Homo sapiens: one gene and its partners. The protein of the gene in region 3 interacts with the protein of the main gene of each other region in a pairwise test. Each region holds a gene or a part of one and is shown on either strand. Other genes may lie near its edges.

The links.
Region 1: the proteins of ALMS1 (region 3) and DYSF interact in a two-hybrid assay, tested with the Homo sapiens proteins (one large-scale study listed by BioGRID and IntAct).
Region 2: the proteins of ALMS1 (region 3) and MEGF10 interact in a two-hybrid assay, tested with the Homo sapiens proteins (one large-scale study listed by IntAct).

What each region holds. Positions count from the first base shown.
Region 1 is NC_000002.12:71,679,670-71,683,320, forward strand, and holds part of DYSF (dysferlin), read left to right. Parts: intron 1-1,331; coding exon 1,332-1,441; intron 1,442-2,860; coding exon 2,861-3,008; intron 3,009-3,651. UniProt on the Homo sapiens protein: Key calcium ion sensor involved in the Ca(2+)-triggered synaptic vesicle-plasma membrane fusion.
Region 2 is NC_000005.10:127,289,533-127,293,729, reverse strand, and holds the start of MEGF10 (multiple epidermal growth factor-like domains protein 10 isoform a precursor), read right to left. Parts: upstream 2,935-4,197; 5' UTR 2,922-2,934; coding exon of another isoform or gene 2,607-2,921; exon of another isoform or gene 2,154-2,606; intron 1-2,153. Other genes in the region: uncharacterized protein LOC105379199, read left to right, coding at 2,607-2,921. UniProt on the Homo sapiens protein: Membrane receptor involved in phagocytosis by macrophages and astrocytes of apoptotic cells. Receptor for C1q, an eat-me signal, that binds phosphatidylserine expressed on the surface of apoptotic cells. Cooperates with ABCA1 within the process of engulfment.
Region 3 is NC_000002.12:73,392,264-73,395,914, reverse strand, and holds part of ALMS1 (centrosome-associated protein ALMS1), read right to left. Parts: intron 1-3,651. UniProt on the Homo sapiens protein: Involved in PCM1-dependent intracellular transport. Required, directly or indirectly, for the localization of NCAPD2 to the proximal ends of centrioles.

The DNA of each region.
Region 1 (3,651 bases), 1.7 Mb from region 3:
CTTCCCCTGAGTCCACAGCAGCCATGGAGAGGAAGTTAATCCCTGAAAGTTTACTTAGAAATTTCAGGCAGCCAGCCAACCCTGAAAGTGGTCCTTGAAATTGAATATACTTGTTATATAAAGAGTGGTAACAATAAGAAATACTAGTACCCCAAAGGAAAAATGAGAAAACGACATGCATAGCTAATTCACAAAATAATTACCAATGTCTGCAAAGCATTTTTAAAAAGGTTTAGTCTCTCCAGTAATTAAATAAAGGGATACAGTAGTCCCCCCCTTATCTGGAGGAGATATGTTCCAAGACCCCCAGGGGATGCCTGAAACTACAGATAGTACTAAACCCGTATTATGTACTGTGTTTATTCCCATCTATACATATCTATGAGAAAGTTTAATTTCTAAATGAGGCACAGTAAGAGATTAACAACAATAACTAATAATAGAACAATTATAACAATATATTGTTATAAAAGTTAGGTGAATGTGGTCTTTCTCTCTGTGTGTCAAAATATCTTACTGTACTGCCCACGGGTAGCTGAAACCCTAGAAATCAAACCCAAAGATAAGGGAGGACTACTGTATTTTTAAATGTGTTTTTTTTGTCTGTTAAATTATATATATTTTTAAAACAGAAATGCTCATTGCTGCTGAGCATGCAGAGAGAAGACAGGCCCCCCTTTTACTTCTGCTGGGAGCACTAATGGTTTTACTGTGTGGAGGAAGAAATTTGATAACATATAGTAACAGATTTAACAATATTTATGCCCTCGGACTCTGTCATCCGACTTCTAAAATCCTTCTAAATAAATAACCCAATAAATTTTAAAAGTCTAGGTTCTGGGATATTTGTTGCAGCATTATTTACCCTATCAAAGAGTTGGAAACAACCTAAATGAACCAAAATAAGTAGTTTACTAAATAATTATGGTCAACCATCCCATACAATGTTTGGCAGTCATTAAAAACCGAACTTTAAAGAATAGACAACTACATAGTGAAATATATTCCGAAGTGAAAAAAGCCATCTATGGAACTGTATATGCACAGTGTGACATTTCATAAGCTTGCAGAGAAAATCAGCTATGATGCATGCAAATGTTAACAGTGCTTGTCTCCATGTAGTGGAAGTAGGGGTGGCAGTCTCCCTTCTTTATACATTTCTGAAGTTTCCAAATGTTTTACAAAGAGCAGGTGCTGCTTTTATGTTCAGAAACCCTACATCTTTTTTTTTAAATAATGAAGTGGCCCTTATGTTTTTTCTGGCCTGGTTACTCTCCAGGCCACTGAGCAGAGCCTTCGTGCCCCTAACCAAGTGCTCTCTGTCCCCTCAGGGCAAGCTGGAAATGACCTTGGAGATTGTAGCAGAGAGTGAGCATGAGGAGCGGCCTGCTGGCCAGGGCCGGGATGAGCCCAACATGAACCCTAAGCTTGAGGACCCAAGGTCAGTGCCCAGCCCCTGAGCCCCAATGCCCACAGGTCTGGGGGTATAGGCCACAGTCCAGGAGGCATCCCATTGCATGGCCATGTAGAAGTCACAAAGCCCACGTGGCTCAGAGAGGGGCACGACTCATCCAAGGCCACACAGTAAGTTAGGGGGAAGGTGATGGGCATCTGTCCAGAGAACACTGGGCTCAGCGAATTCAAGATGCAGGTGCTATTGGGTACCTGTTGGTTGTGTGCCAAGCATGCTATCCTATGCATGTGTACATTGTGCTATGGAACCTTCCCTGCAGGGTAGTTGTTATTATCCCCATTTTACAGATGAGGAACAATCTCAGCAAAGTTAAATAAGGGCATTCCAGCTAGGACAGTGGTGAAGCAGAAATGCTCTCACCTGGTCTGATTGGCTCCAGAGCCCGATCAAGGTCTTGACCCTACCAAGCTGCCTTCGGTGGCTCTCCTATGGTGCCAGTGTGACTTTCAAATGGTTTTTCAGCCTTCATTTTTCCATCTGTGAAATGGGGAGCCCAATCCCTGTCTTCCCTACATCACAGACCTCTTGGGGAGATAGACCAAGCCAATGGATGTAGATGCTGTGAAGGCAGTTACAGGGGCAGAGTCACTGAAAGATGGCTGTGGGGGCTCAGGAATGTGTTTGCTGGATCCCGCCCCACCAGCCTACTTGGCTCAAGTTGGATTTAGCATAGATGGCTCAGTTAGTCACCATGCTGTGATTAGCACCGTGTGCCTGAGTGCCATGGGGCTGGCAGAGCAGTGAGAGGCACCCTTGCCTAAGGATGCTGGGATCTGCACAGGAAGAAAAGAGAGACCCGTGAGACACCAGTGTGCAATCTGATGTTAACGGGGCCATGATGGAGACCCAGAATCCTCCACGTATTTTGAGATGTGGAGCTGGCCTAGGGAAAGGTTTTGAGATTCTTGGTTGTGAGAGAACCAGCTTCCTATGTTCTCTTCCCACCGTTGTTCCCTGAGCATGGACTAGCCATGTGCATCTGGGCAGGTGTCTTGGCTTATCTGGGGCTCGGTGGGCTGGAGAGCACTTTGAAGCACTGCCCAGCTCCTAAATCTGCAGTTTGTGATTAAGTCCTGGGTCAGGAATGGGTGAGGGCACCAAGGAAGGTGTCCTGGAGAGGATGGCAGAGAAACTGGGCCACTGAGGATGCTTAGGGCTTGGCAGCACCCAGAAGAGGAGGGCAGCACAGGTGGGGGTGATACTGTAGCAAGGGCTTGGGGGAGAGGGAATGCAAGGTGCAAAGGGCTAGTTTAGGGACAGGGCCTGGGCAGGCGCTGGGGGTGGACTGTGGAGGGCCAGGCCATTGGACCTGCTGTTGAGAGAAGAGTTTGGAGAAAGCAGCCCTAGTAAAGGATGCCCAGTTGACCTCCGGGATCTCGCTTCCAGGCGCCCCGACACCTCCTTCCTGTGGTTTACCTCCCCATACAAGACCATGAAGTTCATCCTGTGGCGGCGTTTCCGGTGGGCCATCATCCTCTTCATCATCCTCTTCATCCTGCTGCTGTTCCTGGCCATCTTCATCTACGCCTTCCCGGTGAGCAGGCCTGACGACACTGTGGTGGGGGAACTCTGGGTCTAATGGGGGAGTTCATCATTGTCCTCAAAGAGCTCTCCCAGTCTAATGGAGAGAAGTAACCTCTGTCCTTGGAGAGCCCCTGGTCTGATGAGGATACAGAGCCCAGCTCTGGGGAGTCTCCAATCTGGTAGGTGTACAAAGTTCTACCCTTGGAGGCTCTTAGTCCAGTGAGAGAAACTGAGTTCTTGCCCTTCATGGTGAGACAAAGCTGTCCTCAGCAAGCCCCTAGAATTTGTAATGAAGGGGTTAGGAGAAGATGAGGCCCTTTGGGTTGCGGTGGGCAGGGGGACTTTCTGGAAGGGAGGTGTGGAACTGGGTCTGAAAGGAAGGTGAGATGTTGATGGCAGAGCAGAGAAGGTCCCTTTGTCTTAACAGCAGTTGCAAATCCAGAGGAAGGGAGGAGCTGGGGCTGGGAGAGCATCTCAGGGTCCACCTGAGGCACTCAATAGAGTGTGTCCTGCCTCCTGCAGCAGGTGGGCATAGGGAAGCTGTCGGGGAGCGGGAGGCTGGCCCAGGAGCCCTTACTTGGCTCGGTGCCCATTTGGGTTTCCTTTCACTTGGTAAGAAGCCAATTGATGAGCTTGTGGGGCCATACCAGAGG
Region 2 (4,197 bases), on a different chromosome or scaffold from region 3:
CACTGACATTCACCATCCAGAGAGCTGCCAAAGATTTTTAAACAAGGGAATAACATGATCAGATTTGCATTTTAGAAATACACTATTAAACCAAGCAGACAATCACAAAGAAGGTAAATTCACTGCTGCTAAATGAGCATGTGACTTGAGTTTTGCATTAGAATCACCTGGGGAACTTGTAAAAATGCAGACTTCTCACAACTCACAGAAGACTTACTACTTCTAAATCAAGGCAGAAGGGATTAGGGTTTGTATAGTTTGAACCATACAAAATTGCCATTTATTTAGGTCAAAAATGGTCAAATATCAGCAATTTCTCATAGTTCACTCTAATATTTTAACAAATCTCCCCACTTCATGCTTCTGGTATAAACCAAAGTCTGAGAATAGTGAAAGACAGACAGAGATAAACGCTTTTCCCTTTTCATTAATTATCGATGTTGTTACTCACTTTGATGAATATGCAAAGATGGAAGTAACGTAATTTATGTACCTAAAACAAATGTTAAAAGAGAAAAGTGGGGGTTCAAAAACAGCCACCAATGAAGTAAGGCAGCTAATTTAAGGATTTTGGAGCCAGAAGGAACACTGGAGGTTATTCTACTCTTTCCCCACCTCTCAACACAAGTTTATACATAATAAAACTGATGCCTAAATGGAGAAAAGCAATCTGCTTGAGGTCATAGGGAATATTTTGTTCAATTTCTCAATGATACGTGCTTTTTATGTGCTCTTATGAGCATTTTAACAGGTATGGAAATTGTGTAGCTAAAAATACTTGGGATTTAATTTATAGAGTGCTAGGTCACACACTTGAAATGGGAGGAGGCACATAAAGCCAATACTCATGCATAGCCATTTTTAAAATATAAAACCTAAAACAGTGCTTGACATGTAATAGATGGTTAATAAATACTTACTGAACAAATGAGTGACCTCTAAAAAATAGGTTAAAGAAAGTATATTAATGTAAAGGATTTCCAAGGAGGTATACAGGCTGTGAACTGAGTGTAGATTTCCCACCTCCTCACCTGTTCCAAGTAGTCTTTGGTGCCCATCCATGACCCACCACCCTATAAATTCCAGCTCTGCCATATACACCTTTATTTTTCCAACTGAAAGTGCCACAACAAAAAAGCAATACAAAGATCATGTCTGAGCTAAGTTTGACAATAGGTGGTAGTGAAGCTTACAGATGAGCACAGTCTTCAAAGTCCATCCAAATAGGAATAATAGCTAACACTTACTGACAGCTAATAGAAGCTATACTAGAGGGATACAACAATAGTTAATGCTAGCTATACAATAATAATAAAGCTAATTTGTGCCTACTATGTGTCAGGCTTGTTAGTCCTTCACATGCATTAACTTACTTAATCCCTTTAACAATTGTCTGATGTAAGTGCTATTATTATCATTTTGATTTTACATATGTGGATAAACAGATTAAGTAACTTACCCCAAAATCACAGAACTGAAAAGTGGCAGAGTTGTGAGCTGAACCCAGGCTGGCGGGTGCCCAGAGTTTACCAACTGAACTCTTTGAACTCTCAGTGGTAAAATTAAAAGTTCCCTGCAAGCTGACCTCTTGGAGCACTCGTGTCAGGAAGATGACATTTCTGGATAATATAAATTGGCCCCAGTATTTCTGTCCATAAGGAATGAAGCATTTTTATTTGGGAACCCTATACACAAAGTGAGACCCAGGATATAAAGGAGTAAGGCAAGAAGAACAAGAAGAAATGTCATTCTCTTCTGCCTTGGCACAGCATGGTTATCACAGCCTAAGAACAATAATAATGGCTAATTTTGGCTAATAAGATCTCCAACTTTGACTTTCTCCTAAATAATGTGGGTCCTTGCGTGAGGATATTTTCTAAAGAAGCAGCAAAGATATTGCCATCATTCATTTGCTCAGTGGTGTCACTAAGAAAAATACTTCCAGAAAGAAAATTAAGGCCAAAACACTTCCTTAAACCAGGCGTAAAAGTCCTCTAACAAGGAATTTAAAAGAAAAAGATCAACACCGGATTTATCTTTCTTAAGTAACTATCACTTGAAAAACCGTCCCTCCCAGCACTCCTTAAGGAGCCAAGCATACTGACAAGGCCCCTTTGGTCTAAGACTGCGACCTCACACCCCTACTGATCGCTGAGAACTCAGGAAAGGGGAGCATCCCGCCAGCCTAGAGCGTTATCTGCACAATCTGAATACCAAGGACGGGAGAAAGAGAAGTTTAGAAAACAGTGAAGATCCCAGAAAGGAAGTTCAACTGACCTAGAAGAAAGGGCCCAGCTGAAACTGCCTTTCAAGCTCAGTCCGATTCCCCACAAATCTCCCTACATCCAGCTATATCGCCCGGCAAAATGAAACAAACACAAGGTAAGGCAATACAAGGGCAGGAATTATGCAAAATAAAATGCGTAATGAGGATGTCTCTCCATCAAAAATACTCCAGGATTTTCCTACACAATCCCATGTAACAAAACCAAATGCAAACAACAATAAACCCTTAAGAAGCGCATGAACAACGCAGACTGAGCCCATCTCGCCCCACCTCACGCCGCACCCCGGTACCCTGGCTAAGGAAAATGTGACCCCCGCCCATGAGAAGCCTTCCGGCGTCCGGCCAAGGTCCAGGAGCCGCCGGAGTTGAGTTTGCCCAACTCTTACCCAGGTCCAGAGATCTTGAGAATCGCAGCGCAACCTTTTCTCCCCGGTCTTCACCCAAAGCCAGCCAAGACACAAAATCTGTTCCAATCAACGCGGTTAGCGTCCAAGCAGCGTCCCAGAAGAAAGCAATCTTTGGGAGTCTTCTTTCAGGCGTAAAGGTGGAGAAGCGGGAAAGAGGAACGTCTCAACGCGTTCCCAGTCGCCCAGTTTTGCGCACCGGGAAAGTACTTGCTGCAAACTTGAACAAGGTTTTCTCTGTCTGGCCCGAGATGCTGGAGGGGGTGGGGGCGGGTAACCCGAGCCGGGGCCGGGATTCGAGCAGTTGCCGCTGCTGCAGCTGCTGCTGCCGGGGCAGTGGCCGCTGGGGGGTTGTCGCTTGGCGCCGCGCGCAGTCCCTAGCGCAACATGCAGGATCTTCCCGGCCTGACTGCTGCACCTCGATCGTGAGTCGCCCCTGCCTGAGCGGCTTCCACCGCCTGGTGGGTGACCCCGCCAAAGGCCTGGTCGCGAAGTTAGCAAATGTTGGGGTCACCGCAGGGGGTGACCGAAGGGGTGTCAGAGTGGGTGCCCGCCTGATTCCCAACCCACGTTGGGTGCAAGTCCCTCGGCAGAGTCCCTGGGAGGTGTTCTAGACCCTCTGTAAGGATTTGTGGGACGGTGGCCGGCGCCCGAGCGGCCAACTGGAGTGGACGGCGGGTCCTCAGTGGTGTCAGGGGAGAAAGCGCAAAGGTGGGACCCAGAAAGGATGGTGATTAAGCCGTGCCAGAGAATGTGATGTGGCAGCAAAGTACATGGAAAGGTGGGGCGGGGAGGTGAAGGCAGAGGGTGGAGGGTGGGATAGTCTGCTTTACCATGGAGGGGCGGAGAGAGAACTCCCCGGACGCGCAGGAAAATCCCCCCAGGTCCTCGGAGGCCTCGCGCGGCAATTTATTGGGGAATGGCTCCCTCTGCCGACTCGCCGAGGAGGCCCCGGGAGGCCCAGTGATGGAATGTTAAAACCATGAACGGGCTTTTCCATTTGTGGGTTAGACAGGACATGAATTCTGGAATCTGCTTCTCTGACTGTCCATCTTCCTCTTCCAGACTAAAGAGTTTTCCAGCTTTTACAGGACCCCAAAAGATACAAATTTGACTGCTGCAAAGTTCTTTCTTGTGTCGTTGAATTCTATCCCCCTCTCCCCACAAAAAAACAAAAACAGGTTTAAGCCCCATAACCACTCCAGGTAACCATCTCCTACCAGGCTTCTCTTCCTCCCATTAATAAGAACTCTTTCTTTTTAGAGAGACTTCAAGAGCGTTCGAGTCCCTACTCAATAACGCTCCTGGAAAATAGTACAGACTCCATATTATGTTTGAGTGAATAAATGAATGGAATGAATGAACATAGATATGTTTGAAGCCCCTCACCATCCTCTTTACTCTCCCTGGAAATACACAGGGGAAGACTGTTTTGGTGTTTGTTTATTTGTTTGTTTAGCAGTCATCATTGCCCCTTCTCTGGTAACAGTACCTCCATTTTTCTTT
Region 3 (3,651 bases):
TCCAATGTAGCCCAGAGAAGCCAAAAGATTGGACACCCCTGCCCTAAGATCAGGAATAAAAAAGCATATACACTCTTACCCCTCCTATTGAATATTTTACTAAAGGTTCTAGCCAGGGCAATTAGCCATAAATAAATACATAAAAGGCATCCAGATTGGAAAGAAAAAATAAAGCTATATATATTTGCCCTTGACATGATCTTTACAAGAAAATCATAGAGAACCCACAAATAATCTACTAGGATGAATAAACAAGTTCAGAAGAGATTCAGAAACAATATTAATATATATAAAAATCAAGTGTTTTTAAACATCTACAACGAATAACCCAAACATTCAATTAAGAAAAATAATTCCACTGACAATACCATTAAAAACAGTATTTTGAAGAATTTAAGAAAAAAAGTGCAATTCTGAAAACTATAAAACATTATTGAAATTTAAAGAAGATCTAATTACAGTTGTATGCCACATCAGAACATTTCCATCAACTACAGACCACATACATAATGGTGGTCCTATAAGATTATAATACCGGCCCAGCATGGTGGCTCACACCTCTAATCCCAGCACTTTGGGAGGCCAAGGTGGGCAGATCACTTGAGTCAGGAGTTCGGGACCAGCCTAGGCAACATGACAAAACCCCATCTCTACTAAAAATACAAAAATTAGCCAGGCATGGTGGCACACACCTGTAATCCCAGCTACTCAGGAGGCTGACATGAGAATCACTTGAGCCTGGGAAGCGGTGGTTGCAGTGGGCGGAGATTGTGTCACTGCACTCCAGCCTCGGTGACAGAGCGAGACTCTGTCTCAAAAAAAAAAAAAAAAAAAAATATATATATATATATATACACATATATATATATACACACACATATATATACACATATATATACACATATATATACACATATATATATACACATATATATGTAAAATACCATATTTTTACTATACCTTTTCTAAGTATTTGTGTTAGATACACAAACGTATCCAACACAAATACTTACCACAGTGTTACAACTGCCTACAGTATTCAGTACTGTAACATGCTGTACAGGTTTGTAGCCTAGGAGCAAACAGTTAGACTATATAGCCTAGGTGTGTAGTAGGCTATGCCATCTAGGTTTGTGTACGTACACTATATGATGTTTGCACAACAATGAAATACTGTAATGAAACATTTCTCAGAATGTATCCTCATCATTAATTGACACAACTATAAATGAAAGGATATCCCATGTTCATGAACCAGATGATTAGGCCAGGCACGGTGGCTCACGCCTGCAATCCCAGCACTTTGAGAGGCCAAGGCAGGTGGATCACTTGAAGTCAGGAGTTCGAGACCAGCCTGGTCAACATGGTGAAACCCCGTCTCCACTAAAAATACAAAAATAAACCAGGGATGGTGGTGTGCATCTGTAATCCCAGTTACTGGAGGCTGAGGCAGGAGAACTGCTTGAACCCAGGAGGCAGAGGTTTCAGTGAGCTGAGATTGCACCACTGCACTCCAGCCTGGGCAAGACACCATCTCAACAACAACAAAAAAAAGGACCAGATGATTTAATATCAAGATGACCATACTCCCAAATTGATCTACAGATTCATCACAATCTCTATCAAAATACTAGCTGGCTTCTTTGCAGAAACTGACAAGCTAATCTAAAATTCATATGGAATTGCAAGGGGCTCCAGAATGGCTAAAATATCTTGAAAAAGGAAAGCAAAGTTGGAGAACTCCCCCATTTCAAAACTTACTATAAAGCAATATTAATCAAAAGAGTGTCTCCTAGTCAGGCATGGTGGCTCACGCCTGTAATCCCAGCACATTGAGAGGCCGAGGTGGGCAGATGGCTTTAGCCCAAGAGTTTGAGACCAGCCTGGGCAACATGGTGAGATTCCATCCCTACAAAACCTACAAAAATTAGCCAGGCATGGTGGCATGTGCCTGTAGTTCCAGCTACTTGGTAGGCTGAGATAGGAGGTCCACTTGAGCCCAGGAGGTGGAGGTTGCAGTGAGCCGAGATTGCACCACTGCATGCACTCCAGCCTGGGCAACAAAGAGACACCTATCTCAGAAAAAAAAAAAAAAAAGTGTTTCCTGGAATAAGGTGGGCATATAGATCAATGAAATAGAATTGGGAATCCAGAAATAAACCCATATATCTATGGCTAACTGATTTTCTACAAGGGTACTAAGACCAATCAATGGGGAAAAGAACAGCCTCTTTAACAAATGGTGCTGCAGAAAGACAAACTGCCTATTCTTCCAAGTGGGAGCTAAACAACAAGTACATGTGGAAGCAGAGTATGGAATGACAGAGAGTGGAATCTTGGAAGGGTGGGGAGTGTGAGAGTGGGGTGGATGAAGAGAAATTACTTAATGAGTACAACGTAGGCTACTCCAGTGATGGATACACTAAAAGCCCTGACTTTACCGCTATGCAATATATCAATGTAACAAAATTATACTTGAACTCTATAAATTTACACAAATCAATAAAATTTAAAAAAAAAAACAGTGCTGGATAGTCACATACGAAAGAATAAAGTTTGAACCCTTTCTTCATATCGTATACAAAAATTAACTCAAAATGGATCAAAGACCTACATGTAATAGCAATACTATAAAATCTCAAAGAAAACATAGTAGGTCCTCATGACCTCACATTTGTCAAGGGACTGTATCTTGTCAATCCCTTGATTGATAAGGGATTATATATGTAATATGCATATATATAAAGAATTCTTACAATCCAATAGTAAATAGACAAATAACCCAATTAAAGAATGGGCAAAAGTTTGACCTGAATAGATATTTCTCCAAAGAAGACACACAAATGGCCAAGAAGCACATGAATAGATGCATGAACCATAAGGGAAATGCAAATCAAAACTACAAAAAAGTCAGGTAATAACAAGTGCTGATAAGGATGTGGAGAAACTGGAACTCTCATACACTGCTAATAGGAAGGCCACTTTGGAAAACAATCTGGCAGAAACTTAAAAGGTTAACAGAATTCCATATGTCCCAAAAATTCTACTCCTAGATATACATCCAAGAGAAATGAATCCATATGTCCACACATACACTTATATAAGAATGTCTACGGTAGCATTATACATAATAGCCAAAAAGGAGGAAAAAAAACATGTCCATCAACTGATGAATGGATATACAAAATATCACATATCCATATAATAAAATATTATTCAGCCATATAAAGTAATGAAGTACTGATACATGCCACATCACAGGTGAATCCTGAAACCATTAAGCTAAGTGAAAGAAGCCCAGTCACAAAAACACATATCATTCCATTTATATGAAATGCCCAAAATAGGTAAATCTATAGACAGAAGGTAGATTAATAGTTGCATATGGGGAATGGAAGACGGGGGATATCAGCTAAAGTGTATGGGGTTTCTTTTAGAAGTGATAAAATGTTCTAAAATTGACCGTGATCATGATGGCACATATCTATGAATATACAGAAAATGACTGAATTGTGCACTTTAAATTAAAGGTGAATTGTACAGTATATGAATGATATCTCAAAAAAGCTATTAAAATGTTTTTAAGTAAGTCAATTAAGCACTCAACACAAGGAAATACACACACACACACACACACACACACACACACAC